Homo sapiens: one gene and its partner. The protein of the gene in region 2 purifies or fractionates together with the protein of the main gene of each other region. This does not show direct contact. Each region holds a gene or a part of one and is shown on either strand. Other genes may lie near its edges.

Region 1 (3,500 bases), on a different chromosome or scaffold from region 2:
CCAGTTCGATGACTGGGGGCTCCGCTGCGGCCGCGCGGCTCGTCTCCTTGGCGACGCCGTTCAGCAGGACCAGGTGCGGGGGGGCCATGCTGGCCTCGGCCGCGTCCCGTCCCTCTAGCTGGGGGTCACTGCGAGCCGCCTCGCTCGGCGGCCGCTCGGTCATCCTGTGGGCAGACAGACAGACAAGCGGATGCCCGCTCTGACGACCGCCCCTGACCCACCGACGTGGGCTGGGGTAAAGGGGAGAAGGGCAGAGAGAGGAACTCACGCACCGAGACGTGAGAAGAGGCAGACAAAGTTAGCGCCACGTGGGGCTAGGGCGGGAGGCCGGTTGGGGCTAGGGTGGGAGGGAAAGAGGGTCTCTGGATTGGGAGAAGGGAGGGGTGCCTGGGAGACACAGAGACTGAGGGCCAAAAGGACAGAGATGGAGGAAGACGACAGAGACACCGGAAGAAAAGGAATACAGCCAGCGACAGAAACACAGAAGGGGAAATCAGGAGGAAGGAAATGTACAAGGAGGCAAGAAAGAGATTACTCTGTCCCCTTTCTCAGGCCTAAAGGGAAGAGGAGGGAACAAATTCCGGATCGTGCTCTTTGGTTTTAGCGGGGAATCTGTCAGGCAGGGGTTCGTTGCTTTAGGAACCTCCCTTGGCCTCTCAGCAATATTCCCAGCCCACCTACAGGCACACACCCAGAAACCCGGTGCGGATGGAAGTAGGGAATTAGAAAGTGGAGGCTACGGGGACTGGGATCCACTCCGCCAGAGCTGGCAGAGAATAATCCCGAGGAACCAGCTCCCTCCACACACACACACACACACATTCGCCCCCGCTGGGGAGTGAGGGAGTGTCTGTCTACACTGAGCAAATCCACTGTGAGTCCTCTGCCCGCCCAGCGGATCTTTACTCCCACTCAGACAGAGATGAGAGGTCGCCAAGGGAAGAAGATGGTGCTGGCCCAACCTCCCTGCACAGTCCACCTCGTTCTGCTCAGCTGGACTCTGAAGTGAGGTCGAGTCTCAAAGAGAGGCCTGGCTGAGGTAGAATGGAGCTGGGCATTTGAAGGGTTCCCTGAGGCCAGTGGGGTCTGGACTCCCATCCAAGAGCAGGACAGGATGTCATGAGGCCCTTGAACTCTTCCAGCCCCCCTCACCGCCATCTCCTGCCTTGGTGTTCTTTGGGAAATGGGAGGAATACCTCCTTTATGCATTTGAAAGTGCTGTGCAAACGTTCAAGTAAACATTATTAACAAGGAGAATGGGCCAGTGAGAAAACTGCCTGGCCGAATGTCAAGTCACTCACAGCCTATCTGTGAGAGAGCCAGACCAGAGCAATAATCTCACTTTGCTCAACCCTCCTGTATTCCCAGAGCAGTGAAACCACCTTGTGACCCCACAAGCATACTCCGAGATGACCACAGCCACTCTACTTCCCACAGGTGTGCTGGGGCTCTTCCATCACCTGGCTTCATCCAGATAGAGCTGGGCACCAGCAAGAACCAAAACAGAAAAATCAGGAGACTCAAGGGCCAGAGTTTGTGAGTTGTGAGTTGTACATATATGATCAACACCACATAAGTTGTTTAAAATAAGCTTTCTGCTCTCTGAATTATATAATTGGGTATTTAAAAGAAGAAAACAAATACAAAAAAACAATTTACCCCCATGCAGAGTCCATCTAAATCATACATAGCAGCCATTGAGCTCCCATACTGCCACTGCAATGCTCTGGACAGGAGTCATCCTAGGAACCATCCCTCCCACCCCAGAAGGGAGAATGGATCATCTGCAGCCTCCTCTGGAGCTTGGCTCAATTGCCACTAGACACCCAGGATGACAGAGAGTCAAGATTCAGACTGCTGTACACCTTCTTTGGGAATGCCAGCCCCCCAGGTCTGGCACAGAAACCACAAAATTCCCTAAGTCCTGGTGTATACAAGCTGTAAAGGCAGTAGGTCCCTGACACTTCATTGGAAGTGAGTTTATGATTTTGGTGGAGACAATAGGTCTCTATCCATAGAATGCAACCACCAAGACACCAAGGCCACTGGAAATGCACCAGAAGTATATCAGCCAGGTCCTCTTGCTCCCAGCAGCAGCGAAATGTGCCAGAAATATACCAACCCCTGGGAAACATACAAGCTTCAAGGTATTGGTTCCCTACCTCACTGCTCTCCGTCCTGACACACCGGTGTGAGCCCAGTGATCCATGCTTAAGCCCCAGCTTCTAACCGAGTGACAGTGTGCACTGCAGTTGCAGACTGAGCTCAAGCTCTGTTATGACACATTTTTACCCTCCAATTAATTCTTAGGCTCCTGCTCTAGCGGTGGATTCCTGAGAGGCAATGGGAGTACATATTCCAGATGAATTGACCCTGGCCACAAATGTCCTCTCCAGACACCTATAAATATCCCATCGCCAAGGTTCCTTGTAAGAAATATATGATTGGATCCCAGGATCTGTGGAGGACCTCTCCCGGCTCCTCCCCACATTTTAGGAAAATCCTGCCGGTTTAGGATTACCAGCCAGAGGTCCATGCCCCAAAGAAGCCACTCACAAACACTGATGGTTGTTGGCGACTAAGCTGCATCACTTGATTTGGATTACAGAAAGGAACGCCCGAGAGATTTTGTTTGTTTTTATTTGGGGAGAATGAAGGAGGAGGGAGATTTTAGACTGAATCGTTCTAGAGTATTTGACGACTACAGCTCCTCTCTCTTTGTACTACGGAGACCCTGCTTATAGCCCCCAACAGGAAATCCTCATCTGCAGTTGCCAGACAGCCAGAATATTTCCACCTGTGCCAGAACAAGACAGAAGACCCCAGGAGATTCTTCCTGGGGACAGGTCTCAAGCAGACCCAATCCCCCATACAGAGAATTTCTTAGATGAAAACAGCCTCAGGCCCTTAGACCCAGCCTCTGGTCTCTCTTCTGGGCCCACACCAGCACAACACCCTGGAGAAGCCCCAAGCCTGCACAAGTACCAAACCCACCAGGGAACAGCACCACCATCCTCGCCTCTACCGGAGAAGAGGGGTGTTCCTGCCTCCCCACCCTAGGCCTCAGGCCTGGGATCAGGGCCCACTCGAGCTGGGACTGCACTAGCCAGGAAGGCTGCCGCCTTCCTCCTGCGGGAGCTCCAGGCACAGTCTGTACCACCCGGATACAGCCGCCCCAAAGTTACCGGCCTTGGGAAACGTCCACAGAACCGGGACCAATGGGAAAGGCCTGGACGACTAAGTCCAACTAGCTGGTTTTACCCTGGGTGGAAAAGGGAAAAAGCCGCTGAATGCCACAGAGGCAGCTACAGCAGTCAGATCCCGATTCCAAGCTCTGGCTGGTCCTCCCCTCCCCCCACCCCCAATCTGAGAATGGGCTCTCCTCTGTCCTGAGCCTTCCTCACCCCAGGCCGGAACACAAGGCCTTCCTAGACACCGTTTCCACCGGCACCATTCCCCTGAAAACTCACCTGGGGCATATTTAGAGAGACCGGCCCCTC
Region 2 (3,500 bases):
AATATGATGACATAAAAAATATATACAGTTTCAAAAATGATTTTTTTTGGCAATGTGATGATCTACATAATATTGGCAGATAAACAGAAGAAATAAACTACATGTAGACTGAGAACTACCAGTGGTTAAACTGGATGTCTGTTGGTTTAACTTAACGCCAGTACTCTCCCCTGCCCCTGACATTCCAGCCATCACCACAATTACGAGACCTTTCAGTGCTCTAGGAAGAAACAACACAAAGCAATGGTTGGGTTTCATTACCATGACATTGATATTTGCCTCCAATATACATGAGATCGAAGCCTTTATGACACTTGCAGATGTAGCTCCCAAAAGTGTTGACACATTGCCTAAATCTAGGGCAGGAGGCTCTTCCTGTAGCACATTCATCAACATCTAGAAACATAAGTCAATAGCATTTTAGGAAGAGCAAGGGTATGTTAAGACAGAGTGGGTTTCAAAATAAATAACTGACTACAAATGGTTGCCTAGCATATAGTGGCTCATCATAAACGGTATCTAGCTGGTTGTCCCTACAGGCAACATAAATTCCACATATCCAAATTTCAACCCAGCCTTCTAAGCCAAGTTATTATTTTCTTGCACTCTATATATTAGCACATACTGCACCTGTATCTACCAAGTTGCTTAAACTAGAAACATGAGTCATTCTTGAATTAGAAACAACCCTCTTTCCTTTAACTCCCATATCATCAAGTCCAGTTAATTCTACCTCTAAAAAAAAGTATTTGAATCTGTCTACTTTTCTCTTAATCCACCACCACTACCCTATTTGAAGCCACCATCTCTTGGGTTAGACTGTTACAAAAGCCTCAAAACAGTTCCTTTTGCTGTTACTTACCCCCTCCAAAGCATATCCAACCCAACTGTCAAAATGATTCCATTAAAACATACAATCAAATCATTACTGTGCTCAAAATCTTTTAACTATTTCTACTTGCACTTTGAATTAAATCCACATTCCTCCCCTGTGTCCTTGAAGGCCCTGCAACAAATCACCCTCACCTACTTCACCCATTATATCTCCAGCCACCACCCCTCATACTCACACCCTGTACTTGAGCTACATGGACCTTCTTCCTTGAAAAACCTCACACAGGCCAACCTCTCTCTCACCGCAGTGCCCTGCAATGTCTTCAGCTGCTTGGCTGTTTCTTCACATGGCTAATGATACAGGTCTTACCTTAAGGCTAATAGACACATTCTGTTTTTCTCTCAGTACCTCATGTTAACACTTGGCATTGTCTGTAATTTTATGGGGTATTTGTTTCTTTTCTGTCTCCCCCATTAGCATGTCAGCTTTGTGGGGATCAAAATCTTGTGTGCTTAGGCCACTGCTATATATCCTAGCACTCAGCACAGTGTCTGGAGTATAGAAATTACTCAGTAAATAACTCTAATCACCAAACACTTCCATTCATTCAAGGCTTATTACATGCTAGGTATTGTGCTAAGCTCTTTGCATCCATGATCTCATTCAATCTTCCTACCAGTTCTATGTGGTATTATTTCCATTTTAAAGATAAGAAGACCCAAGCTCAAAGCAACAAAGTCTCTTGCCTAAGGTTACATATCTAGTACATGGAAGAGCCAGGTTTAAAACCAAAGTCCAGACTCTCAATCCTACACTGCCTTCCTAATTTACCAGAAAAAAATCTGAGGCCTGAAGAACAACACATACAATCTAGCTATTCAGCTTCATCACTCATTGCTCACCCTTGCCGCTTACATTCTAGGAATACTGAGCTCTTCTCGTTTCCCTAAACATTGTGCTCCTCTGAACTGCAGTGTCTTTGCACATAGGGTTCCCTCTGCCTGAGGCCTCCTCCTATTTCTCATTTTTTAAAAAACAACGCTCCCATTATCCATTCACAGAGATGTCCTCTTCTGAGACATCTGATATCTTCTGAACGATAGCTAATTATCTGATGTAAGTAATTGCCTTTTTTTTCCTTATTCCCATCACCTTTCACTTTCTCCCTTTATCCTACAGAGGCTGCTGACAGAGATGCTTGATTTTACAACTCACCTACACAGGTCCTCCCATCAGGAGCCAGCTGCAGGCCAGGGGATGGGCACTGGCACCGTATTTGTCCTTTAACAACATCACAGCCATACTGACAGTTTGCCATGGAGCAGGTCAGGGCACCTGGAAAGAGAGTGACTGGCTGACTCAGACAGGTAGAAAACAAAATCTGTAATGGAAATAGCTATGTTTTTTCACTTGTCCTGAAATCAGTGACACTGAACAACAATGAAGACAAAGAGGCCTTAACTATCAAACATCTAAAGAAAATAAAAGGGGGAAGGAAAGAAAGCATTAAAAGACAAATATAAAACTATCATATATAGATTATCTGGAAATTTTTCCAGTGGCCAAGGAAAGTGAAGAATTGAGGTATTTTTCCAGATTACTCAAGCTAAACGCTATTCTTAACTAATCATCCAAGTAACTGTCTCAAATGCCCATGAAATTTCTCTAGGGGAACAGCAGATTTCCCATTGAGTTGCACAATGTTAAACATGTATTCACCTAATTCCAAAAAGTTCCATGCTATACTTATGCAATGTTAAATAAAATTAGCTAACTTTATTTTATGCAACTCAGTTAAATGATAATTCAGTAAAAATAAAAATCAAGTCATTAATTGTCAGATATCATATGAATACCACAATTCAGGAGTCAGCCTATAGAGAATTTTAGGGCATAGTCCATTTTTTACATCCAAATGATGGTGAAAACATGCATTTCTTCCTTATAAACATGAATCCTACTTTTCTGGTATCATATTCATTTATTTTTTATTTGAAATTGTTTTTTAGAAGTCTTAGACTATTATTAGAGTCTAAAATTCTATAAAAGCCTAAAGGCTTTTATAATGAAATATAAAAATGAAGAAAATATTTATGAATGATTTAAAATTACAAAACAGACCTGATGGATTCTGTCTGAGCAGTCCCTAAATAGTCAGTAGTGTTCTTTTTTTTTTTTTTTTAGCCTGGAATCATTCTTCTATGCCCAGATAGAAGACATGGGTAAACATGTTTAAAAAAAAAATTAGAAAACATACTTAGTTTTGTAATTCTTATTCTAAACACCATTTCCTAATCAATTTAATATTGGCACCCGTGATAGAAGAGTATTATACATCGAAAATGGTGCCTCTTATTTTGATTTTCAATTCCTCAGGCAAAAGTATAAACACACGCACACATCTTGTTTAGGAGAACCCCGGAGGCCATTTTCACAAAAGCAAGCTCTCAGAGCACAACAGAAACAAGCCCAAAGCACTTATAAAACAGTTAAGATTCTTGACATACTTGAGCAGGAACCATCCGGCATGAGCATATATCCGTTGAGACAGTAGCACTTGTAGCTGCCGTAAGTGTTCATGCACCTGTGCTTACAGGGCCGGGGCTTCAGGCCACACTCATTTAGATCTGAAAACAATGTGGGTTGAAGCAGAAAAATTACAAAA

What was found. The genes of interacting proteins can lie anywhere in the genome.
Region 1: the proteins of NPNT (region 2) and TAL1 purify together in Homo sapiens (affinity purification with mass spectrometry; one large-scale study listed by BioGRID and IntAct). This does not show direct contact.

Annotation. Positions count from the first base shown.
Region 1 is NC_000001.11:47,225,726-47,229,225, forward strand, and holds part of TAL1 (T-cell acute lymphocytic leukemia protein 1), read right to left. Parts: 5' UTR 3,471-3,500; intron 165-3,470; 5' UTR 164-164; coding exon 1-163. UniProt on the Homo sapiens protein: Implicated in the genesis of hemopoietic malignancies. It may play an important role in hemopoietic differentiation. Serves as a positive regulator of erythroid differentiation.
Region 2 is NC_000004.12:105,936,971-105,940,470, reverse strand, and holds part of NPNT (nephronectin isoform B precursor), read right to left. Parts: intron 3,463-3,500; coding exon 3,343-3,462; intron 2,171-3,342; coding exon 2,051-2,170; intron 397-2,050; coding exon 262-396; intron 1-261. UniProt on the Homo sapiens protein: Functional ligand of integrin alpha-8/beta-1 in kidney development. Regulates the expression of GDNF with integrin alpha-8/beta-1 which is essential for kidney development.